Homo sapiens: one gene and its partners. The protein of the gene in region 4 purifies or fractionates together with the protein of the main gene of each other region. This does not show direct contact. Each region holds a gene or a part of one and is shown on either strand. Other genes may lie near its edges. The genes, in order: OCLN, NUS1, SUSD5, LCTL, SLC25A46, USP22 and SFXN5.

Region 1 (3,500 bases), on a different chromosome or scaffold from region 4:
GTCACATTGTGAAAATTCACCATGTTATACACTTTGATTTATACACTTTTCTGTATGTATACTTCAACTTTTAAAAAATATATAAAATAAAAAATGAAAAACATGTAATAGAAAAGCTCTTCCTCCAGATGAGTAGGTATGGGAATTAAAATAAAAAGAAGAAGAAAGAAAGTTCTTCCTAAAAGAACAATCTCGGATACTTACTCCCTTCACTTGCTTCAGTCTATTGTATTCATCAGCAGCAGCCTATTAACGACAGACACAAAGGAATATGTTTACTGGGGCATTTTCTCTTTTAAAAGTAACATTCCTGATGTTATACTTTGGAGCTAAAAATGACAGCTTATGACAAAAATATAAGCAATTAAAAGAATGAAGTCGTAAAGCTCTTAAAACTCATGATCAGCAGGAAGGTCTGAAGGAATTCAGTGAAGAGACATTTATGATACTGTATCTTTCACATTTCACTCACATAGGCAGGTAACTATCTGTTCTGCTACTTCTCATCTCTCCTCATGCCAGTCCCCATGCTACATTGACACCAGGAAGATCTTTTATAACACAGAGCGCTCGCTGATCAGGTAATATCCCACTACACAACTGGTCTGAGCTTCCCATTAACTTCTCCCCTCATCCAGTTTCCTACCTTTCCAGTCTCAGTACCCATCATCAGCAACTCCTTTAAAAACTGAGACATGTTAAATGCTTCAGGATTTCAATCATGTTTTCCTTATGGCTGTAATCATGCACCTCCCCGCACCCTTCTGTCTGGAAAGCTCTTAACGATTCCCTCACTGTGAAGCCTCCAAAGACTTTATTTCTTCTATGAGCAGTTAGTTATAGTGCTTTCTACACATGATGCAAATACAGCATTAATCATACTGTCTAAATTGTTTAGATGTCAGGTTTTTTTTCTTAAAATATAAGCTCTTTTAGGGTGGGGACAAGATTTTATGTCTCTAGCTCCAGCATTTCCACATCATCAAAGAAAAATAAGTGATCAATAAATGTTCACTAAATTAAGAAAGATCTATAACACCCTATAGAAACCATAAAAGAAATACATAAATCTAACTATATAAAGATGTGAATACGTCAAAACTAAAAAGTAGATCACCTCAACTGAAAAATGGCAGAATATTTAATGAGATGTGCATCAAATGAGTCCTGTATTGTATCAAGAGGGAGACACAGTTGGTGCAGTCTCTCTGGAGGGCAATTTTGCAACTTTGCAAAGGTACGTACCCTCTGACTCTCAGCAATTTCACATTCTGGAATTAGTTTTAGTTAGATAAGCAGGCTGGGCACTGTGGCTCACACACGTAATTCCAGCACTTTGGGAGGCCAAGGCAGGCAGATCACCTGAGGTCAGGAGTTCGAGGCTAGCCTGACCAACATGGCAAAACCCCGTCTCTACTAAAAATACAAAAATTAGTCAGGTGTGGTGCCACATGCCTGTAATCCCAGCTACTCGGGAGGCTGAGGCGGGAGAATCACTTGAACCTAGGAGGCGAAGGTTGCAGTGAGCCAAGATAGCGCCACTGCACTCCAGCCTGGGCGACAGAGCAAGACTCCGTCTCAAAAAAAAAAAAAAAAAAAAATTAGATAAGTAGACAAGAGTGCAAAAACAGAGAGGTTCACCAGTATATACTGGTACTACTGGAGTAGGGGGAGACATACTTAAATGTCTATCCATAGAAAATGACTCTTAAATTATGATACAACCATAAATTTGAAAGTTGTTTACCTAATTTTACACATAAAAAACTTAAAAGTAAGTAGGTCTTTATTATTGATATAAAAAAAAAAACTTGCTGTTAAGAAAAGCCAGAAATAAGCAGTGCAAGGAAGTTTTTTTGTTTGTTTTTTTTTTAAAGATAAAACCCCACAATAAGAGTATGTCAAAGGGACACGGGAAGCAACTGAAAGTTCCCAACCGTCAAAGCGAGAACAATTAGAGCTACAAAATAAAGCAGCCTTGGATTATAATTCACAGTATAAAACAGGTATCTGTAAAGTCCATACTTACGTAAGTGATTGACTGATCAATAAAGGAACAAATAAACAAGAAGAGATTAATCTCCCTCTAAAAGGTGGTGTAACTACATTAATTTCAGTATGTATACAAAATACAGTATGAAAAGGATGGATTGAAAAAAAAATCCAGTAACTTTACATGGACAAATTCTATCTCAGCCAGGTGATCAAGGGAGGGAAAAAAAAAACCCATAAACTGTTGATTTAAAAGACAGGAAGAAAATAAGTGAAACATGGAAGATGATGTTTCCTTAAAGAAAGGTGTATGTGCCTTGGTGACTCCTGCTTGGAGAGATTGTTTTAACTAATATTTTGGTGATAAGGATTTCTTGATGGTAGGATTTAAGATGATTTCTTTTTCTGTATACAGTTCTGTGTTACTTAAGTTCTTTTTTTTTTTTTTTTTTTTTTTGAGATGGAGTCTCACTCTGTCACTCAGGCTGGAGTGCAGTGGCGCGATCTTGGCTCACTGCAAGCTCCGCCTCCTGGGTTCACACCATTCTCCTGCCTCAGCCTCCCAAGTAGCTGAGACTACAAGTACCCGCCACCATACCTGGCTAATTTTTTGTATTTTTTTTTTTTTTTTAGTAGAGACGGGGTTTCACTGTGTTAGCCAGGATGGTCTCGATCTCCTGACCTCATGATCCGCCCACCTCGGCCTCCCAAAGTGCTGGGATTACAGGCATTAGCCACCGTGCCCGGCCGCTTAAGTTCTTTTCTACAGAAAGAATGAATGGCTTTATAAATAGGAAAGATAATAAGGCTATTTTATTATTATTATTATTAATTTTTGAGATGGAGTCTCACTCTGTCGCCCAGGCTGGAGTGCAATGGCGCAATCTTGGCTCACTGCAACCTCCCCCATCCCAGGTTCAAGCAATTCTCCTGTCTCAGCCTCCCCGAGTAGCTGGGATTACAGGTGTCTGCCACCATGCCCTGCTATTTTTTGTATTTTTAGTAGAGATGGGGTTTCACCATGTTAGGCACGCTATTCTCTAACTCCTGACCTCAGGTGATCCACTTGCCTTGGCCTCCCAAAGTGTGGGGATTATAGCCATGAGCCACCATGCCCAGCCTGGCTATTTTATTTTAAATAGGAAAGGATAGATGTACATAGAATAGTGCTTTGTAGGGGCTGGGCGCGGTGGCTCACGCCTGTAATCCCAGCACTTTGGGAGGCTAAGACGGGCAGATCACGAGGTCAGGAGATCGAGACCATCCTGGCTAACATGGTGAAACCCCGTCTCTACTAAAAAAAAAAAATACAAAAAATTAGCCGGGCGTGGTGGCAGGCACCTGTAATCCCAGCTACTTGGGAGGCTGAGTCAGGAGAATGGCGTGAACCCGGGAGGCAGAGCTTGCAGTGAGCTGAGATCACGCCACTGCACTCCAGCCTGGGCAACAGAACGAGACTCCACCTCAAAAAAAAAAAAAAAACAGAATAGTGCTTTGTAATTATTAAC
Region 2 (3,500 bases), on a different chromosome or scaffold from region 4:
AACCACATGTGCATTAACCGATGAATGCATAAGCAAAACGTGGTATATCTAGAAAATACTACTCACCAATAAAAAACAATGAATAACTAATGCATTTTACATAGATGAACCTCAAAAATATGGTAAGTAAACAAAGCAAGACATAAAAGACTATATATTGTATGACTCCTTTTATATAAAATTTATAGAAAAAGCGAAAGTATAGTCAGAAACCAGACCAGTGGTTGCTGGTTTAGGGGGCAGGAGTGGGGACTAAATGCAGTCACAAAGGAACTTTTGATGGTGATGGTATTCAGAATGCTTGCCTCTGTCAAATTAATAAGTTAAGAATTGTGTACATTTTCATTTATCCTAAGCTTACAATGCCTGAAGGCAACAACTGGGCTTAATAAACATTAGCGCTTTCCCATGGACTACCTGAAGGTCATCTTTGGATCTCCATCAACTTTTAGAATGTCCTTATGAAATTACTCTCTTATTAGGGTCTCATAGGGTGCAGGAAACAGTCAACATCCCAGTAACATCTGAGCAGAGAGGCCCCATAATGGTCTACTACTCACTGAGCCTGAATATAATTAGGCAATGACAGGGTAGGGTAAGAAGCAAGTAGTCAACAAAAGTAGGAAGTTAGCGAAACCAAGAAGTGGGAGATGGACTTTGCTCTGTGACGGACACATGTCAAAGTGGAAGAAACAAAGAATGGAGAGTTAAGTAAATAAGTTAAGATAGAAAATGCATTTCTTTTTCTTTTTTTTTTTTTTTTTTTTTTTTTTTTGAGACAGGGTCTCACTCCGTCACCCAGGCTAGAGTGTACTGATGCGATCTTGGCTCACTGCAACCTCTGCCTCTTGAACTCAAACTATACTCCTGCTTCAGCCTTCTGAGTAGCTGGGACCACAGGCGTGAGCCACCATGCCTGGCTAATTTTTTATTTTTTGTAGAGATGGGGTTTTGCTATGTTGCGCAGGTTGGTCTCAAACTCCTGCGCTCAAGCGATCCACCTGCCTCAGCCTCCCAAAGTGCTGGGATTACAAGTGTGAGCCACCCCATCCAGCCTGAAAATGCACGATTAATAAGTAAATGGATAGTCTAAGTAATAAAAAATGAATGAATGTCTAAAACTGTATGCCTATAGAAGCTATTAATGAACATGAATTTACTAGAGAGATTGTCTTTCTTCAAAAGGATCAAGGCTAATGCTAGTAAGCAAGAAGAACCATGACATTATGGCAAAAAGGTCCTAGAGGGAATTCTCTAGACAGAATATGCAAACCAAAGGCTTATTTAAACAGCTGAAGAAAAAAAGTTATATTTGGTATAACATGACAAATACAGTTGTATATTTGGTATAGCATAATAGAAAGAATAATTAAAAAGGAATCATGGTAACAGTAAGATTATATTCCTGGGATCACCTCATAAAAAGATTAAGTTCAAAGTTAAGGGAAAGTTCAAACTAAAAAGAAAGGGGAAGAGGGAGAGGAAGGCTAACAAGCAGAAGTCCTATTTTCAAGAATATTCATCACTACAAAAAAGATCCTCAAAGGTCATCTCCTTTACCATTAAATCCTCATGCGAGTGAGTGGCTACAAATTTCATTGTCTCGAAACCATTTTTACATAGGTCTTTAAATTTCAGAAATTTAACAGGTATTAACAACAAAAGAATCAGGCTTTATGGTGTGAAAGAAACAAAAATATTTTCTTTCATACTGTATCCTCGTGTGACAAAACTAAACACACACACATACATATACATATATATGTATATATATATAAAAAAACTTACTAAGTAAACTGGCTAACGTATCTACATCCAAATCTGTGGGTCTCTTTTGCTTCTGGGCTACTAACTGGCAAAAGTCCTGAGCAGCTCTTACAATATCTGCTTTTCCATCTTCCGGAGACAGCACCTTCACTGCCAAATGGCAATTTAAAACTGGAAGAAAAAACAAACAATGTATTTTAAAAACACTCTCTTCCAGGTATATTTCAAAAGCAGTTTTAAGAAATACAAGGTTAAACCAAAATAAACATACAGTTCTTACAGTAAACAAGAATTTTTTAAGCCCTTCAATTTCAATATCAAAACATACTTAGCTATTCTCCTCTGAAAGGATCCATATATCCCAAATCACATCCATGTATATATTTATACACTGCCTTCTTTTCAAAGTGTTCAGAATGACTATACATTGTGACTACATCCTCTAGAAAACAGAAACTTTATAGGCTAGCTAACAAATTTTCACGCATCTAAAATTTCCTGTATAATTGCGATATCGTTAGCAGTAACACAGAATAAAAGAAAAAATAAAGACTAAGAAAAAACTGTTAGAGTGGAATATGCATTGCCTATAGCATACATACCTTTATCAATTCTACTTTTATAGGAGCTATCTTACAATTGATGGGATTCTCAGATAACACTGCAAAATTCTTATCTATAGACATGCAAATTCTTTCTTGTCCAGCAAAGATTCAATTTCTTTCCTCACTCCATAGAACAACCAGTTGTACCTCTATTTATATATTCATTTCAATATCTCTACAAATGTGTCCATTCTATGGATTCTCTGTGGAACCAGTTAAAAAATTTGCCTGGTTAAATAAAATCCTTATCATGTGTTCACTTTTTACCAAGATTAAGACGAGAAAGTCTAAATCTGATGATTAAAGATGTTGACAATAAAGAGTAACAGAGCAACGTGAATGAATAAATGACAGAGTAACAGAAATTGCCATGAAACACAAAACACACATCTTCATATGTTACATGTTCAATTATACACTCATGCTTACCTTGATCATCTTTGTCATTACTATTTGCAAATTCTGGTGAGTATTTTGAACAATCTAGGCCCAGAAGTTCTTGCTGTTGTTTTAAAATTTCATCCATCAATCTGGAATTATTTCTTTTGAAAATACCTTTAAAAAAGAAAAAGGCAAGTAAAACACAACTAGGTTAATTTTTCCTCTTCAAGTGAATGCTTGCTATGAAAACAACACTAGATCCAGAACTAAACGAATGTCAAACAAAGCTGTAATGACTAGTCCTAAACTAGAATCTAAAAGGAAAACATGACAACAAAACTTTGTTAATACAAGAGTCTGGCTTCCAGCAAAAAAAAGAACAGAGGTAACTACTTAAGTAGTGGCATGTGAATATGACAGAAATTTAGACTTAGGAATTTTAAGAGATCACTTACTTAAAATCTTTATGGATTCAGAAACTGAGGCCTAAACTCTTTAAGGTTCTTCTCCAAGAAATTATAAACTGCAGCAGTGGTCTAGAGCCTGTTATGTTCCTCACTCACAGTCTAATGTACCTTTTCTGCAGATTTACTACTTGTATTAAATAATCTTGCCTCAATTTGATTAGTTTTTTAAATCATAAGAGGAAGTAATAAGGATTACGTAAAAAGAGAACAGAAAAACAATTTAGTAAATTTAAAACAAAGCACAGAAATAAAATACAAAGAACAATGTATGGTCCTCTAT
Region 3 (4,080 bases), on a different chromosome or scaffold from region 4:
AACGGAAAGCAGACACACAATCAAGAAAATAAAGCCAAAAGTTGCTTTTTTCAAATGAATAATAAAACGGATAAACCCCTACTAAGACTGATCAAGACAAAAAAAGAGAAAACACAAAGTACCAATATCAAGAATGAAAGGGAACATCACTACAGATCCCGTGGACCCTGAAATGATAATTAGAGATTATTACATTGTATATGCCACATTAGACAATCTAAATGAAGTGGGGGAAAAACTTTAAAAAATAAAACTTAGCAACATTGACACAAAATTAATTTTAAAATCTGAATACTTCTTTATCTACCAAACAAATTAAATTCATTATTTAAAATCTTCCTACAAGAAAACCTTCAGACACAGATGATCTCACACCAAAACAAACAAACAAAAGCCCTCACCCGCAGAAACCCTTTCAGAGTTAAAGAAGGAGCAACTTTACAATTTGGTTTAGGAACCATCATACGTTTGATATCAACACTTGGCAAAGATATTATAAAAAATGAAAATTACAGGCTAATATGTTTCATAAACATAGATTCAATAATCCCAAACCAGCTTCCCTCACTCCAGGCTCAGTTCTAGGTCTTCTTGCTGTAAAATTTTTCCTTAGGATTCTGCCCACGCACATGATTTCAAAGACCATCCTTATACAGATGACACGTTTTTAGAAATAGTTTCTCTCCAAATCTATCTCTTCAAACATCTGTAATTCATCATACTTAAGCTGAGCATTTCTTCTTCTTCCTCCCGTCACCATAGCACACAAATAACTAAATGTAGGAACTGGTGGCAGCTAAGAATTTAGTACCAAAAAGAATCCTTTGATAATATAGCTTATAACTCTTCCTGGTTCTAGTATAAAAGTTGGAGCTCATAAAATTGAGTTTACTATAAGGAAGTATACCTATAATTGTCCACTGAGGAAGTGGGGAAAGAAAAGGAAGGAGAATGAAGAAAAGGAATCATTTCTGGCAAGCAGTAACAAAGAATCATGTGCTCTGGTGTTGTCCTTACTTTCTCTTTGACCAGTGACATTTCTGCCTTTAATTTTCTATGACCCGTATCAAGCTAGACAGGCACAAAATATTGATCCTTATCCACATGGCATTCCACTTAAACAGTTATAATGGGATGAAACTCTAAAACCTTATGGATTGCAAAAATATTTATTTAAAAGGAATTAAAGTTGGCACAATATATCTTGTTCAAAGATTAATATTAGCTCCAATTTATTCTACTTGCATTCTTTAAAATCAGCTTAATTTTCATGGCTCAATGTCAGTCAAAAAACACTACAGTGAAGAATTATCAGTAAACTGCTAATAGGTATGGGATTCTTTTGAGGAGTGATGGAAATGTTCTGGAATTAGATGCATGCAAACCATGGTTTTCACAACCTAATGAATATACTAAAACCCACTTAACTGTATATTTTAAAATGACAAATTTTATGTGAAATACATGTCAATTAAAAAAATTAGCAGTGGTTACTAACAGCCTTCAAAGTTAAAAATGTTTTGTCTCTAACACTCTCTCTGAGGATATGGAGAAATACGACATTCATCCTTAATTAGGAACGGAGAGCTTTTCAAGCCTGCACTTAAAACAGAGAGCACTAAAAACTCTACGACCTAGACGGTTTTTTCCTTGGCTTTCCCCTTTTCCTGACAACCATGCTTTTTTTTTTTTTCCCCATGTCTTCTAGTTTCACTCAATATCGTTGGCTAAACAAGAATCACATTTTAAAATATACAACGCATCCTAAATTGACGGAGGGCTTTTCTCTTTTATCAGTCTAATTCGTCCTAAGCTAGAACTACCTCATGGGTGTGAGAACTGCTGGCTTTAAGCTTGCTTCCTTCAGATGCTCCTGTACCAAGTCAGCGGGATTTTGTTCTAATATGAAAACACAGCTGAATTAGCTTTTCAAAAGGGAATGGATACAGAGCTCCAATCCTGCTCATTTTAGGGCAAGTATTACAAGCTAAATTCAGGCTGAAAAACCAAGCAAACGAACAAGAAGTGGATCAATTCTCAGAGAACCTGCCATAATCTGGCCCTTGCCCACTTCTCTACCTCATGTCTCAAGACGTCCCCTCGCCTCCAGGTACTTTGCTTTATCATTTGTCCCGTTTTTCCTGTCACTCAGAGACAGCCTTTGCACGTGCTTTTCCCTCTGGCCAGGCCATTCTCTCTCTCTTAGCCTCGCTGATTCCCACTCATCTTTCACGTCTTCCCGGACCAAGCCAAAATATCCGAGGGAGTTTTCTAACCATCGGCGGTGTCCTCAGGGGCACATTAATAGACGTTGAGAAACTGAGGGACGGCGGAAAATCACCCCTTAGCAGAGGAGGTTCTAGGGCACCTTAGAGGTGATTTCATTCGAGCTTTCTTGGAGACCTTAGGAAAGCCAGCGGCGGGACTGCGGGACCTACGCGCTCGGCGCTAAGGGAGGGTCCAGGCACCAGGCGGGCGTTTGGGCGCACGGGCACGCGGAGACTTGGTGGGCCAGGAGAGGGATGCTGGGTCGCAGGACCGCGGCTCGTTCGTTCCTCTCAGGCTTGCGCTTGCCGCTTGCCGGGCCGGTCAGAGGGAGCAGCCCCGGCGAGCTACGCCCTCCCTGCCCGGACCCCACGCTCCACCCCCCGCCCCGCCGCCTCCCGCACACTCACCATCCGCCCGCACCGAAAGGCGCGGCAGACCGAGCAGGAGCAGCGCCGCCGCCCAGAGCCCGGGGAGGCGTCTGTGCCAACGGGCAGGCGGGCTGGGTCCCTCGGCAGTCATGGTCCGGGAGTGCGCGGGCCAGCGGACTCGGGTGAGGGCTCTGGCTGCGTTTGGGGTTGCCCAGGCCACTGCCCAGCGTGCGCCACTCGGCTCTGCGCTCTGCGCTCGGCTCACGAATCGCAGGCTTCGCGCCGGGCGCGCCGAGAGGGAGGAGCGCGGAGAGCCGGGGGAGGCTCGGGACGCAGAGCCGGAGCGCCTGGGCCGCCGAACTCCCGGGGGTCTTCTCTGTGGCGCCGAGGAGGCGGCTGTAACCCGGCTCCGCCTTCGCGCTGGGCACCTGGAAACCTCGGTGCCAAAAGGGGCTGCGCTGGGCCGCGCGCTCTGCGGGTACAGCGGGGCGGAGGGCGAGGGCGCAGGGAGGCGGGGAGAGTAGCTAGCCGGCCGCAAGGAGCCCCCGCCCGTCTGGGGGACCCTTGGCGAGAGGGTGACGCAGTCTGACAGGCGGAGCCCCTCCGGCAGGGCCGTTAGACAACGAGTGTCTAACTCTGTCCTCGGCCTCTACTTTTCAACTGGCCTCCTCCCCCTCCCCACCAACACTCTTTTTTTTTTTTTTTTTTAATGAAGAGAGGAAAATCTAAGTTACCTACCACCCTCACTCTAAGGTGTGAAACGCATGGAATAGCGAAATTCCTCTTTCCTAAAAGCGAAGTTTGAGAGTCACTGAGGAAAGGATATCTTCAGGAACGCTTCCTTCACCACTTTTCCTGGTACGCTAGTATTTCTCAAGGAGCAGTAAGAGGGCTAGTGAGATTGTCACCATTATCACCCACCTCCCAAATCAGGGCTTTTTGACCTCGAAAGGGTCTGAGATTCGGACTCTGTCGGTCTGGTCTGGGAATCTACACTCTAAGTTAAAGTGTCCCAATGGATTCTGCTGCAGGGGTCCCTGTTTGACTTGATTCCTTCTTCCTGCTCGCCCCTAGCCTGTCTCCCTACCACCAGCCCTGTTCAGTGAAAGAAGAACTTGCTTTCTTCATAGGTAGAGTAATAAAGATCAGTATTGTTATAACTGAGGCATGCGCGGTGCTCTACAATTTGCAAATCCCTTTTATATTGATGTATGGGTCAACAAACATCTATTGAGTGCCCATACATGCCTGTCCCTGTGCTAGACCCTGAATGTGGCTGCAATCGGTCCTAAAAATGTTCACACTTAAATAAAATATACTTACAATTGAAAAAGTGATTGGTGCTAAAGGGGCAGATGATTATCCTCATTTAATGAACCAGGACACAGACATTGAAATAATTTACTTTCTTTTCACAGTAAGAACTTGGATTTGAATCCACATC
Region 4 (4,007 bases):
TTGGAAGCAGAGACTGGGGCCTCACCAGAGTCTGCACCTGCCAGTGTCTTGATCTTGGACTTCCCAGCCTCCAGAACTGTGGGAAGATACATTCCCGTTCTTTACAAGTTACCCAGACTCAGGCATTCCATTGCAACAGCAAAAGTGGATTAAGACAGTGAGTCAGAGAGATTTTTTCACTCACTCGCATCTTATAGTCCTGCGCCAGAATCCAGACCCTAGTCTCTGCTCCACCTTGGCAACCCAAGTCCTCAAACTGGGCTCCCTCCTGCTTAGTTGAGTCCCCTTTGGGCCTGTGAGCCTGCTCAGGTCCTCACCTGTGGCAGATCCCAGTGGTGCAAGGTCACGATGGGAGTGATGTTGCTGCTCAGAAGGGCATCGATAAGATCACTGTAGAATTCGATTCCCTTCTTGTTCACCTGCTCGGCTGCAGGTGAAATAAAAGAAGATGCTACCAGAAAGGACCTCGGCCTTGGCCTTGGCCTTCTGGAGTGCAGCATTCCTGGGCCCTGTTGCTTTTTGAAGGCCTGAGGCACCCTCAGCCCACCAGCATTCTGGGAGCCCAGTTACCTGCAGAACCTGTGAGAGCTGCTACCGTCAGCAACTACGTTCATGGGCTGATCTCCCTCCCCAGGACTCTGTGGTGCCCCTGCAAAGCCAACATTGCCGGAAGGGGCCTCACTTGGGTTCAAGAGGGGCTTCCCTAGCTCACCTCGGATGCCTGTGGGCAGGAGCCGGGGCCAAGACAGGGAGAATCGGTAGTGGTTGACGTGCAGTTCCCTCAGCAGAATGATGTCCTCCTGTGCAGACAGGGGTGGGGAGACAGGTCACCTGGGCCCTGGGTATGGGAGGTAGGGGTCCATCGGGCTCTAGGGCCGAGGCTCACTCTTGTCTGTAGCTGTTAGTGGGCAAGGAAGAACCTGCTTCCTCACCTGTACAACAGAGGTGATGCCACCTGCCCACTTCATGCAGGGGATATGCCAAGAGTCAAAGAAAACGCAGGACAGGGAGGCACTGAGAGAAGTCCATCAGGGTGCCCCTAGTAAACCTGGGTGATGAGTTCCTCAAGAAGCCATCCAGAGAGGAAAGTGGGTGCTGAGGATGAGCGGGTCCCACTCCCTCCACAGGGTGCAACTGACAAGCAGGGACCAGGGGTTCAGGCCACTGTGGCTGTAGGCCCTGAGGCTGTGGGATCAGCCCTTCAGCTCCCCCTTCACTTGGCCTGAGGCACTGGCTCAGGTGAGGCCCCACTTTCCTTTCCTCCTACATCCACCTCACATCCTGGCCCCTCCCAAACCTTCACCCCCACTGGCCCTGCCCCCTCTGGCTGCACTGGGGTAGAGGGTGTTTGGCAGAGCATGGGGATGACATTGTCATCAGAGCTCCCCCAAACGTCACTCCCTGCCTCCCAGCTAGGCATGTACTCACATGTGTGTGCACGCGCGCGCACACACACACACTCACACCCCGCACTCACCTGGACCTTGTAGTAGCCGTCACAGGCTACATCTGCCGTCTCATTCCCAAGCACTTTCCCCTTCCCACTGTGTGTGAAGACGTCCCAGATGCTAGGCCCTTTCCCGTCCTGGTCCCAGGCGCCCTCCGTCTGGTAGGCAGAACTGCCCACGCCCCAGGAGAAGCCTGCAGGGGGAGACCCGTGCTGGGTCCCAGGTGCTCCCATGTGTCACCCAGAGCCAGGACTCTGGGCTGTGCCTCCCAGGCCTCAGGGACTGCCCCTCCCTACCACGCTGCCCCTGTCCCACTGGGGACTTGTCTTCCTAGGAGTGTGAGCACATGAGGCACGGTAGGGGAAGATATATTAAAAACATTTTTTGCACAATTTTAGCTCTGATTAGCATACATTATCTGTGTAATTTTTAGTAACTTCAAAAAAAAAATATCTGTTAGGAGCTTTTAGAACAACCACACAAAGGTAGGTTTCTCATCCTGCCAATCAGGAAGCAAGAACACCAAACTCCTTGTCAAGTCAGCCAAAGTGGGCAGGTGGACGACAGACAGGCAGACAGACGAACAGAGGCGTGGCCGTACCAAGAGGGAAGGTTCCATAGTAGAAGGAGGCCTCTTCTGGGGACCCCTTCCGGGCGGCCCCCAGCCTGGGCACCAGCAGTAGCATCCACAGAAGGGTGGCGACCCACACTGGCTTCATGGTGCCTGGCCCTCCCCCATACCTGAAAAAGTGCAGCTGGCTCTGCAGGCCCCTGCAGCCAGGCTGATGGCCAGGTCTTGGCTTAGGGCAAAGGCCAAGTGGGGAGAGGAAGGGAAAGGAAGGCGCTTGATCTGCACCCAGCAGCAGAGGCTGAGGCTGGATGTCTGATGCTGTTTCCGTGCCTGGGGAGCTCTGAGACTGATGGGCAAGACTCCAAACTATCCCTTCTCCCTACCTTGGCTCCTGTCTGATGGGGGAGACCCAGCCCATACCCCTGAGTGGCCTCTATCTAAGGGGGAAACCACGTCTACCTCAGGGAAGCTCCAGTCTGAGGGGGCAGGTGGGAAAACCCACAGGGCCCTTTGGCTCTCCCAACGACACGCAGACCCCTCCCCCAAGCCGGGGTTGCCCATCCCAGTGCCTCTGTCCTGCACACGAGGGAGACCCCTCGCTCTGGAATCCCCTCTTTGGTGCCAGCCCAGCCAGCTTACCCAGGATCGTCCTTGATCGCAGACACCCCCAGAGCAGTCGCTGGTAGTCAGAGCCCTCTCCAACTGACCCCCAGGGCCTACGCTGTCCCCTGAGAGAGGAGCCACAGCACAGCCGAAGGCTCTGGTTGGGGGTGTGGTCTGTGGCTACAGAAACTTTCAATAGCTCCATTCAGTGGGGGCCGGGCAGGAATGCTGAGCTGGCCGGCAGGGCCTGAGTCAGCAGCTGGGGGAGCTTGGCGCTGGGTGGGGGGCGGGGGGGCAGGGGAGCTATCAATCAACTCCCCATCCTGGGACAGAAGGGCAGCCAAGGAGGGGGGAGACCTGGTCCTCCTGGACCCTTCTGGGCTTGACATGCCACCTTCAGCACACCCCAGTCCTTCGAGTCCCAAGCTGGGGGTGGCGCAGGACCAGTGTATGTTGCCATGTGTCTCTGTCTACTTGTCCCAGCTGCCAAAAAAAAAACAACCAAAAAACCCACCATAAAAGATAGAGTTGGTTTTTCCACCTTGGCCTTCTCTCTTTGTATCCCTCATTCATTTCTTTCCTCACTCATTCATTCAACCAGCACCACCTGCTAGAACAGCCCACCCTGTAGTCTCAGCACCTCTTGCCCTCATCTGCTGTGGCTCCCTTCCCTGCAGTGCCCTCCCCATCAGAAAGGCCTCCTTCACATAGCTCAATTTCCAGCCTCCCTGCCTTCAGCTGAGCCCTCACCACAGCTCTCTCAACTGGGCCTTATGGCTTTGTTGTTGGTTAATTTCTTTGTACTCTTCCTTTGGGTCTTCAATGGGTAGCACCTCCTCCAGGAAGCCTTTCTGGATTCATGCACCCTCAGGCCAGACTAGGTTCTCTGGATTTTGTTTTCTTTTCTTTCTTTTTTTGTTTTCTTTCTTTCTTTCTTTCTTTCTTTCTTTCTTTCTTTCTTTCTTTCTTTCTTTCTTTCTTTCTTTCTTCTTCTTTCTTTTCTTTCTTTCTTCTTCTTTCTTTTCTTTCTTTTTCTTTCTCTCTCTCTCTCTTTCTCCTTCCTTCCTTCCTTCCTTCTTTCTTTTTCTTTTAAACAGTGACATGGTCACGGCTCACTGCAGCCTGGACCTCCTGGGCTCAAGTGATCCACCTCAGCACCCCAAGTAGCTGGGGCTATAGGCACCCACCACCACGCATGCCTAATTTTTTGTAGAGATGGGGTCTTGCTATGTTGTCTAGGCTGTTCCTGGGTTTTCCTACAGCCTGCGTTTACCCCTCCCACCCTGCACTTCCACATCAGCTGTTTATGTATCTGTCCCCTGCCCCTTTGTAGGTTCCTGGGAGGCGGGAGGCGGCCAGCCTGGTTCATCAGCATCCAGTCCTCT
Region 5 (3,500 bases), on a different chromosome or scaffold from region 4:
CTGAGGCGGGCGGATCATGAGGTCAGGAGATCGAGACCATCCTGGCTAACACGATGAAACCCCGTCTCTACTAAAAATACAAAAAATTAGCTGGGCACGGTGGCGGGCTCCTGTAGTCCCAGCTACTCGGGAGGCTGAGGCAGGAGAATGGCGTGAACCCAGGAGGCGGAGTTTGCAGTGAGCCGAGATCATGCCACTGCACTCCAGTTTGGGCAACAGAGCGAGACTCCGTCTCAAACAAACAAAAAAAAAAAGTGGGTTATAACAGAGTTTGCAAGTGGGGTCCACTGACTCCTGAGGGCCCCATTACCCTTTCAGGGGCTTGACAAGTTCAAAATTATTTTCCTAGTGATTACTAAGATATAATTTCCTTTTTTCACTGTCTTGACATTTTCACTAATGGTACAAAAGCAATGGTAGGTAAAACTCCCAGCTCATTAGCACAAATTGAGGCAGCACCATCAAACTGTATTTTCGTACTTACAGTAATTTTTCACCTCATTTACCCATAGAGAGAAAAAAGCAACCTTCATATAGTAATATCCTTGACAATGAAGTAACAAAATGTTAATTTTATGAATCCTTGACCTTTGAGTACACATCCTCTTTCTAATTAATATCCTGTGTGTTACATAAGGAAGTAAGATTGCTGTCATGAGGAAAGCACTTGTATGATAGAACTGCAAGCTAAACTAGCCACTTTTTTCACGGAACATCATTTTTACTTAGAAAAACTCATTGACGGACTATACCTATTCACTTTCAGGACAGACATATTTTAAAAAATAAACAAAGTGAGATTGTTGATTAAAACAAAAATAAATAACAGTATTTACTGTCAATGATAAGTTTGAATTTTCAACTAAAACTCAGAATTTTGGAAAATCTATATGCATCGTCAAGAGCTGACAATACTTATAGACTTTTCTAGTGAGATCAGTAGTATTTTTAATGAAGATGATTTTTTGATATTTTATAATCAAATGTTTTAACAACAGGAAGATCTATGTAACTCAATTGGTCAATATTTTTCAAATAACTTATGCACAATTACATGGAATCAGGCATAAGTAAAAATATCTATTCAAGATGCAGTATAGTTAAATGGATTTTTTAATGTAACAAAGTATAAAAAGTTCACTAAAATGATTTCTGATTTCACATTGCAAATAACCTTTAAGAAACTGCGACACAGTGAGTTTTGGTGCAATTGCAAAGAATACCCACAATTATCTCAAAAGAATATAATATACTCCTCTCCTGCTTTCAACTATACATGTGTACAAGACTAAACTTCCTTGCTTCTTTCAAAAACCACGTGATGCAACAGATTGACTGCAGAAGCATACGAGAGAAACTGGCTCTCTCCTATTATGTCAGATATTAAAGATATTTGCAAAAATGCAAAATAGTTACTTTCATAAAAACATATTATCTTACTAACAGGTGTTATTATTTTAATGAATTATATAGATGCATTGAAATTTTCCCAATTTTAATTTCTGAAATGGTAACTATCAATAGATATGACCAACATAAACCAAAGTTATTTAGGATCCTCAATATTTTTTTAAGACTTTAAAGAGGTTTTGAGACCAAAAAGTTTGGAACATTTCACATGAAGTAACAATTACCTGGTTTCATGTCATTTATGTGAGTTCTGCCCTTCATATTAGGGTCAGAAGTATTGCTTCAAAAGATCACAGAAATTACATTTACCTGACATTGGCGGCGTAGAACAATGCAAGGATGTGCCAATACATTTTCTGTAAAGAGACTATATAAAAATAATTTATGTATATGTATGTCTACATAGAGATAAATTAAATTTACAACAGGTATCTTTCTGAAATTATTCTTGCCTGAAGAATCATGCATTATTTTATGTTTTCCATTCTTAAACAAATTAAATAGATCTTTAAAAATGTCTAGAAATGTTTGCAAATGATTCTACCCATAACGAAATTCAATATGAAAAGAATGAAAACCAGATCTGCATACTAGTAAATAAGGGAAACAATACATAATACATAATATTAATGTCTATAGTATAAGATGAAACTAGATCTCTGAATGTTTAATGTGGGAAATGGCACATCAATTAAATGGCATTTAATGCTGCAAATTATTTCTTTCAGAAAATGTCCTAATAACAGAATTCCTATCAGCAGAGTCATTTGATCTTCATGAACCCCATTCTAAAAATGTTTGGTTTTGGTGCACTTAAATTATAAGGTTTAAGTATAAATTTAAGTATAAATCTTAAATTATAAGATTCTTAATGACCATGTTAATTGACTAATATTTATGTATCAAATATTTATTTTGAGAATGTGCCCCACAAAACAATTACAGCTGTGGGTTTCAGGTCTCAGAGTGACATATACATACATGTGCACACATATTTATATGTAATAATAGTCTATCAAATGAATCAAAGCTTTAAGTATAAATATTGAAGCAAAAAACAACTCCAGCAGAATGGAAAACACAGATTTTATTTATATTGACATTAACACCCTCGGGTTTAATTATGCAAATAAGGTGTTTTTCTTCGTTAAAATGTTTAAAATAATGATCATTATGGCATGAAATGTAAGCTTTGTGCAATTCCAATATTTTTGAAAATGGTATTCACTAAGGATCACAATAATCAAGACTAAAGGATTTTCTTAAAATGATCGTTAGATATAAAAAAAAGTAATGCTATCACCAAACGCTGATTATGAACAAAATCTAGATGCTATGTTGCTAAATATCTTGTAAGCATTAGAGTGTTTAGAAAGAAGCCTCCATGCACAATTACTTTTTTGATGGGAGACAGACAGATTACATTTCATTTTATTCTTTGGATAGACCCATGAAAAGAATGAAAACCAGATCTGCAAACAGGTAAGTAAGGGAAACAATATATAATACACAATATTAATATCTACGGTATAAAATGAAACTAGATCACTGTATGTTTGATGTGGGAAATGACACGTCAGTTACATGGCATCATTAAATGCCATGTAATTTTTCTTTCAGAAAATGTCCTATGAAAAAAGTTCTTATCAGCAGAGCCATTTGATCTTCATGAACCCCATTCTAAATTATTATTTTGATGGGAGAGAGATAAGATTACACTTCATTTTATTTTTTGGATAGACCCATGAAAACAGTTACAATACTCATTACAAAATTACTTTGTGTTTATAAAATTGGATGACTAGTCTATCCTTACTGGAAAAACTATCAAATTATATATTTTAAATAATGGTCATTTTTTTTCTGCAAAATATTATTCAAAATTTAAGCTGCTGCTTCAAAGAAACAACCTAAAGGAAGCAATAATAATCATTTAATATTGTAAATTAAAGAAAAACTCTAAATTCAATAAATAAAAGCTGTAAACGTCTTTAGATAAAACATTACCTTGCAAGTCCAATACCAAATCCAGCAAATCTATTCAGCTGTTCTAAAGTAAAAAAAAATAGAAATAAAAAAATAAGATTACT
Region 6 (3,500 bases), on a different chromosome or scaffold from region 4:
ACATTTGCAGACGATGCGGTTGGTGAGTAAGCTAAGGAGAGAGGCCCAGTGGGGGCATCCACAGGCTGACATGGACCGTGGAGGGGTGGCACTGTTTAAGCAGCCCAGCACACCACTTTCTGGTGTGGTGGCTCCTGCAGAGGCAGGATTCCCCAGGCTGGCGGGTTTTCCTAGAAATTCAACCTAGAATCTACTACTCCATAGCCCTTGCAATGATTTCTGAATTAAATCCTTTTCTCCTATAAATTAATTCAAGTAGATTCAGTAGACTGCAAGCAAATCCTGAAACATAACTAGGATTTGTATGTGACAGGAATTAGAAGAGGATCAATTATTTAATTGTTGTTGATCTTATGCAGTACAGAAACACCCTGCCAAATTCATTAATTTGGTCCCGATATTAAGAATATTCCTCTGAATATCCTGTCCTCTTATCTCCCCACTCACACTACCTCCCACCCCAAGAAGGATGCGGAGGAGCAAGAGGGGCAGAGCCCTTGTAGTCAACCAGACTTACCCTATGGGATGACTCAACAGTACACTGAATTTTGAGTCCAGCTTTTAAAAGTGTGCAAACATGACACACCACCTTAAGAGCTAGTGCACTTTTCACACATTACCCATGACTTCCTACTGGTCTAAAACCTGAGCATCTTAGGAAGGTAAGTTTAATTCTTGTGCATTCTCTTCAGTGACTTTTTCAAGGACTCAAACACTGACATAAGTGAAGGGACAGGTATAATTTTTTTTTTTTTTGAGAAGGAGTCTTGCTCTGTCACCAGGCTGGAGTGCAGTGGCGTAATCTCCGCTAACTGCAACCTCCGCCTCCCGGGTTCAAGTGATTCCCCTGCCTCAGCCTCCCGAGTATCTGGGACTACGGGCGCGTGCCACCATGCTCGGCTAACTTTTTGTATTTTAGTACAGATGAGGTTTCACCATGTTGGCCAGGATGGTCTTGAACTACTGACCTCAAGTGATCCACCCACCTCAGCCTCCCAAAGTGCTGGGATTACAGGCATGAGCCACCGTGCCCGGCCTAAATATTCTATCCTTTATATGAAAAAAAAAATACGGCACTAAAAAGCTAAAGACTTTGCCAAAATTAGATAATCTTCTCAAATTAAGTTCCCCAACCTCAAAAACCTCAGCTTCCAGACTCAGGCCCCTCAATCTCGGAGCCAAAATCAATCTAAGGGTACAGCGACTCCAGACCTTTCAATTTACAGAAGGGGTAATTTCATTCAGCAAAGGCAAGACCTCAGACTGACCTCATTTCAAGGCTGGGACCCAGCAGTTGCCGGTGATGTCCTTGGACAGGTCAGGAGACTTACTTGCCAGGCCTACCTAAAAAGTGTATCCCAACTACCAAAACCAGAAGGAAATTACGTATGAAATATAAAATATCACAGCAGTCCTCCCTTACCTACAGTTCCGCTTGCTGTGGTTTCAGTTACCCACAGTCAACCTCAGTCTGAAAATAGTAACATGGAAATGCCAGAAATAAACAATTCATAAGCTTTAAACTGCCCGCCGTTCTGAGAAACATGATGAAACTGAGTGACATCCCGCTCTGTCCCATGACCATCCCTTTGTCCAGCTTCTCCGTGCCATCTAGGCCACCTGCCCGTTAAGTCACTTGGTAGCTGTCTTGCTGATCACATCAACTGTTGCGGATGTGATCACGGATAAAAGTGAACACAAGCCACTTTTATTTGGCTTAATATGGCCCCAAAGCTCAAGAGTACTGATGCTGCAATTTGGATATGCCAAAGAAAAGCCATAAAGGGCTTCTTTTACGTGAAAAGGTAAAAATTCTTAATAAGAAAACAATATCAAATAACAAGGTTGCTAAGATCTACAGTAAGAACAAATCTATCCATGAAATTATGAAGGAAAAAAGTTTGCACGTAATACAAATGGGGTTCAGTATTATCTGTGGTTTCAGACAACTACCGGAGGTCTTGGAATGTATCCCTCAAGGATGGGGGTGAGTACTCTATTATCATAAACAGGAAATGAGGAAGCCCAAGAGATGCTGTGCTGAGGGACACACACTTGGACGGAAGCAAACTGGGGCAAAATCCTCCTGGTACTGACCAGCTTAGGCTAGTCTTCCTTTAAATTGAGCTCACCTCACACAACTGTCAATTACACATGTATGGGGAGCAATCACATTATCCTAAAGCCTCATTTTAATCTACCATTCTCACTTAATTCTCTGAGTTTCTTACCAGAGCTGCTAACATATAATAATAAAACTCACACTCAATTCTATCTCAATTTCTACTCTTCAGCACCCTCTGCTACAGGTACTGGCCAACATAAAACAAGAGGCAAGAAAAAGACTCACATATCCATTAGGCGGGTCATTTTAATCCTTGAAAACTGAGTTTACTTCCTACCTAAGCTTCCATCCGCTTAATACCAAGGTGATCAAGTCTGTGTGCTAAATACAGGAAAAGCCTTAATAGGAGACCCTGCTACCAATTTGTAGGAAATAGGACAAAAAAAAAACAAACCACAACACTTTGAACTTCCACTGTTGAGTATGCAAACAGCAAAATCCAGACTATAGGGAAGTCAACAAGTCACAAGGCCCAAGTTTTTCAACAGATAAAGTAGAAGCAAAAAACTGTAAGAAAGGAATGAAGAGAGAACCTACAGATTAAGAAACTTAAACGACTTACCAGTATAGCCACATGATAAATACCATTAAAAGAAAAAGGAATGAACTTTCGGCTGGGCGCGGTGGCTCACGCCTGTAATCCCAGCACTTCGGGAGGCTGAGGCAGACAGATCACAAGGTCAGGAGATCGAGACCATCCTGGCTAACACAGTGAAACCCAGTCTCTACTAAAAATACAAAAAAATTAGCTGGGCGTGGTGGCAGGCGCCTGTAGTCCCAGTTACTCGGGAGGCTGAGGCAAGAGAATGGCGTGAACCCAGGAGGCGGAGCTTGCAGTGAGCCGAGATCGCACCACTGCACTCCAGCCTGGGCGACAGAGCAAGACTCCGTCTCAAAAAAAAAAAAAAAAAAAAAAAAAGGAATGAACTTTCAATCCACTCAATGGATACAATGGATATTGCTAGACAAAAGAAGCCAGTATGAAAAGGCTACAGACTGTATGAACCCAATGATATGACATTCTGGAAAGGGAAAAACCTCCGAGATGGAGACGAGACCAGTGGTTGTGGAGAGTTAGAAGGTGAAGCACAGGGATTTCTTGGGGCAGTGCAACTGTTCTGTACAGTACTGTAGTTGTGGATGCCTCTGTCAAAATCCACTGAGCTTTAAAGCACAAAGAGCAAACCTTAATATATGCGATTTTAAAAATAACTGATGAGGCCCTATGGAATGCAGGCTGAGGCAGAAGAAACCAATTGTATTACACATATAGGACACAACTCCGCCAAGAGGGGTGGGGAGGGAAGTACCTAAGTAATGTGGAAATGAGGAGGGAGTGTAAGACTAAAAGCAAAAGGAACTGTAACTGAGCACT
Region 7 (3,500 bases), on a different chromosome or scaffold from region 4:
CCCCAGGCACAACCTCACCTCCCCACCTGCTCTCCATTACAGGGAGCACCAGGTTGTGCTCTGTCTACTGGAGCCTCTTCTCGGCTTGGAAAGCCTGTCCTGACTCCTCCACCCACAGAAACCTGTCTCCCAAATCCTTGCCTGGCCTGGCCCTCAGACAAGCATCCACCTGCAATGCTGAGCGGGGTGGCCCCAGAGCAGCAGAGCCAAGAAGGAGCAGGGGAGGGAGTACTCACAGCAATGGAGACGGCGCTGATGACAGCTCCCAGGTATCCCTGGATGAACTTGGATGCAGGTGAAGGCTGGAAAACAGAGGCAGAATTTCAGGCCTGCTGGGTGCCCAAAGCTCCCATACTTCCCCTTGTAAGCTGTCCCAGCCAGCAAGAAGCATCCTGCCCACCAGCCTGGAAAGTGGGTAGAAGGAAGAGGCCCCTCAGGACTCAAAGGGATCAGGCCACCCTCAGCTCAGTTCCCAATGCAGAAATATAAATCACCAGTATCCAGGGAGATACTGAAGGGCCCACTTCACTCCTGCCCTGTTCTAGAAAGGTCACTGGCAGACAGTGCTGGGTGGAGGTGGAGAACAGCAAGGCTAACATGGACCATTGAAGGCTGGGGCAAGCAGTCTTCAGTTTAGAGGCTAAATGTTTCAAGGGGGCCATTTGGCATCTGGAGCGCTTTCTAGGTGGAAATGCCAGTGTCAAGGCTCTCACAGGCCTTGCCAGCCCATGGAACAGCTGGGCTCCCATGTCAACAGATGATAGCTGCCCAATATCTCTAGAGAATAATATACCCCAAGTTCCAACACAGACAATTAAGAAAAAGCTAAGGAACTTGCCCTGTGCTACAACTGCAGGTCTAGAAGTGTCTGGTTTAAGATAAAGGGAGTCATCCAAGCAGAGATGGCCATATGTGAAGCCTATGAGAGAGACTTGGGGTGGAGGTTTAGATGTCAGGGGGCAGCCACAGCATATCAGGCCTCTCAATTCCTATGGCCCAGGCCAGCTCCTATTCCCCTCCTCTCCCCCAAGGTGAGCAAATGTTAGGACTCTCCTCTACCCCAAACTGACAGGCCCCCAAAGGGGACTTAGATGCATCCTGCCTTCTTTGCCTTTGAATTGAAGTTGGGGAGAGGTGGCCTTGCCAGCAAAGCAGGGGCCCAGCAGCCCTTCCTGGACAACAGAAGGGTGACTGGGCCTCCACCACAAGCTCTCCAAGGAGTGCAGGGGCTCTGGGGGGGAGTTACCAGCCCTGGACCCTCCCCACTCAGGAGCAGCCCTTCAGCTTGTGGCCAGCAGTCGGGACCTGGGAGCGCTAAGGCAGCTTCCAGAAATTTTGGAGGAAGCTTTATGGGAATTTTGCCCCCAAGTAGCTGATACCATCATGATCCAAAACCCAAATGTAAGAGCTACCCAAGAAGAATCTGAAAGCCAGCCGAACTCATCCCTTGCACTGCTCCCATTTAATGGGCCTTCTTCACTTCATGTAAACAGCCCCTCCCCAGAGGGCTCCTGGCCCAGAAACTGCAGCTGACCTCAGCTGAGTCATGTCTGAGTCGGCCACCCACCTGAAGGGCTGGCATTTTAAATAAGATATCTAGAGGAGGGCCATGCTTAACCAAGAGGCAGCCACTGATGGTGGCATGTCACGCTGTAGGGAGGATGACTGGGCCTCCCTAGCCTGAACCCCACCACTGGGGAGAGGGCAGTGATGCTCACCTTGGTCGCATTGCGGTTTGCATAGTTGACACAGGCATTGTGGCTCTGGTTCAGCCACTGAAAGGCAATGATGAGAGAAGTCAGGGAAGGAGTGGTCACCTCCCTGGAAGCCAGGCCTGGACCCCAGGAGGCCACACATCCCCAGAAAGGCACAGCATGCGGTCTCCAGCTCACATGGTGCCGCCCATGCTGCCGGTCAGCATGACTGACCGTCCTGGTTTGCCCAGGGCTGTGCTGGTGTTAGCACTGGAAGCCCTGCCTCTCGGGAAGTCTCTCGGTTCCTGAATGGGGTCCTGCGCACCCCAGTAGTCCACCTGATCCTGAGACAGTCACCTCTCTTGGAATGATGGCATTCACTGCCCCTGCAGACCCCACTGCCTTTGTCACACCATCTTTATTATATTACCTGCTGGACAAAAGTTGGCCTAGAATGACTGACAGCCCTACAATTCTTTCAAAAATCTCCCAGTCCAGTATCCTGCACCTCCAGTTCCCAGACACAGAGGCCGGCAGGAGTTTAGTTCAGGGAAGACTGACATTTTCTCCTAGAAGACAGACAGGTTTTCCTTCCTGCCCGTCTTTCTCTGCACACACAAACACAGAGATATCCTCAGTTTTCATGGCATCACAACCCAGACTGTCTCCAAGAGCAGGGACCAGGGTCTGTGATGCACTTCACAACCTCAGGTTAGGGGTGGATTTAGCTTCCTCAGCAGATGTGGGGGAGGCTGATGTCAAAATGAGGCTATGGGCCTCAGGGTCACTGGCCTTGGGATGAGCAGCCAAGGGGCAGAGTGGGGGCCACCCCACTGACAAGCCAGCATGTTCCAGGCAGGGGCACGCAGCCCTCATGACCTCTGTCCAAAGGTTAGAGTGACACATGGTGGATTGAGACATGCTGGGCTGCTGGAGACCTGCTCAGCAGGGCCAAAGTCCTGGTTTTCCTTCAGTGGCTTCTGGGCTAGGGGTGGTGTTGGGGTGGACTGACCCTACACGGGGTCTGGACGGGGCAGGAGACACCACAGCAGGGAGTTCTTAACCAGCACCTGTGTGGGCCCTTCCTTCAGGAGCCCTGTTTGCTGCGAGACTGTTACCTGCCAGAAGACAGTGGATGCCAGTGTCTGGTTGGGCAAGAGAAGACCGACTACCTATGAGCAAGAGAGAAGAAATGCTGAAAAAGGCAGAAGAAACATCCTATGCTTTTGCAAAGAAAAAATACGCTACCACAAATGAGTGAGCTGGATCTGTACAAACTGATGTGGTATGCCGTGTACATACAAACTGAGGTTCATTGAGGGAGAGGCTGTGTGATGGGAAAAAACCAAGTTGCAGAATTATATTACAGCATAATCTTATTTATTTAAAGAAAAATCATTTTATATATAACGATATACACAAACACATGCATACACACATTATCTTCAAGCATGAAAAAACCTGTAGTGTGGATGTCTCTGGAGGTTGGGTTGCAGATTACTTTTGCACAATCTTAAATATTTCTGTATTCTTTTAAACAACAGACATGTATTATTTCCACAATTAGGGGGGCAATAAAAACAAGCAAACAAAAGGAATACCTTCGTTTCCACTCAGGTTACCTGACTGCTCACCCTAGCCTTCCCGTAGGATTTTTGCGAGGATTAAACAAAAATCATTTCAAAGGCCTTAAGTGCTTTGTAAATACAAGTTGGGGGAATTTGTATCTGTTATCTGTGAATTTCCATGAAGCAAAAACCTATACCAGGTTTAAGCAACTGAATGAAACATAGATTTCTAATATTT

The links.
Region 1: the proteins of LCTL (region 4) and OCLN purify together in Homo sapiens (affinity purification with mass spectrometry; one large-scale study listed by BioGRID and IntAct). This does not show direct contact.
Region 2: the proteins of LCTL (region 4) and NUS1 purify together in Homo sapiens (affinity purification with mass spectrometry; one large-scale study listed by BioGRID and IntAct). This does not show direct contact.
Region 3: the proteins of LCTL (region 4) and SUSD5 purify together in Homo sapiens (affinity purification with mass spectrometry; one large-scale study listed by BioGRID and IntAct). This does not show direct contact.
Region 5: the proteins of LCTL (region 4) and SLC25A46 purify together in Homo sapiens (affinity purification with mass spectrometry; one large-scale study listed by BioGRID and IntAct). This does not show direct contact.
Region 6: the proteins of LCTL (region 4) and USP22 purify together in Homo sapiens (affinity purification with mass spectrometry; one large-scale study listed by BioGRID and IntAct). This does not show direct contact.
Region 7: the proteins of LCTL (region 4) and SFXN5 purify together in Homo sapiens (affinity purification with mass spectrometry; one large-scale study listed by BioGRID and IntAct). This does not show direct contact.

Annotation. Positions count from the first base shown.
Region 1 is NC_000005.10:69,548,290-69,551,789, reverse strand, and holds part of OCLN (occludin), read right to left. Parts: intron 247-3,500; coding exon 205-246; intron 1-204. UniProt on the Homo sapiens protein: May play a role in the formation and regulation of the tight junction (TJ) paracellular permeability barrier.
Region 2 is NC_000006.12:117,692,469-117,695,968, reverse strand, and holds part of NUS1 (dehydrodolichyl diphosphate synthase complex subunit NUS1), read right to left. Parts: intron 2,928-3,500; coding exon 2,802-2,927; intron 1,939-2,801; coding exon 1,789-1,938; intron 1-1,788. UniProt on the Homo sapiens protein: With DHDDS, forms the dehydrodolichyl diphosphate synthase (DDS) complex, an essential component of the dolichol monophosphate (Dol-P) biosynthetic machinery.
Region 3 is NC_000003.12:33,216,011-33,220,090, forward strand, and holds the start of SUSD5 (sushi domain-containing protein 5 precursor), read right to left. Parts: upstream 2,801-4,080; 5' UTR 2,788-2,800; coding exon 2,676-2,787; intron 1-2,675.
Region 4 is NC_000015.10:66,563,199-66,567,205, forward strand, and holds the start of LCTL (lactase-like protein isoform 1 precursor), read right to left. Parts: upstream 2,801-4,007; 5' UTR 2,659-2,800; intron 2,190-2,658; 5' UTR 2,168-2,189; coding exon 2,050-2,167; intron 1,642-2,049; coding exon 1,478-1,641; intron 801-1,477; coding exon 713-800; intron 428-712; coding exon 318-427; intron 1-317. UniProt on the Homo sapiens protein: Plays a role in formation of the lens suture in the eye, which is important for normal optical properties of the lens.
Region 5 is NC_000005.10:110,742,007-110,745,506, reverse strand, and holds part of SLC25A46 (mitochondrial outer membrane protein SLC25A46), read right to left. Parts: intron 3,461-3,500; coding exon 3,418-3,460; intron 1,778-3,417; coding exon 1,720-1,777; intron 1-1,719. UniProt on the Homo sapiens protein: Transmembrane protein of the mitochondrial outer membrane that controls mitochondrial organization.
Region 6 is NC_000017.11:21,033,012-21,036,511, forward strand, and holds part of USP22 (ubiquitin carboxyl-terminal hydrolase 22), read right to left. Parts: intron 1-3,500. UniProt on the Homo sapiens protein: Deubiquitinase that plays a role in several cellular processes including transcriptional regulation, cell cycle progression or innate immunity.
Region 7 is NC_000002.12:72,998,713-73,002,212, forward strand, and holds part of SFXN5 (sideroflexin-5), read right to left. Parts: intron 2,867-3,500; coding exon 2,813-2,866; intron 1,776-2,812; coding exon 1,719-1,775; intron 303-1,718; coding exon 237-302; intron 1-236. UniProt on the Homo sapiens protein: Mitochondrial amino-acid transporter. Transports citrate. Does not act as a serine transporter: not able to mediate transport of serine into mitochondria.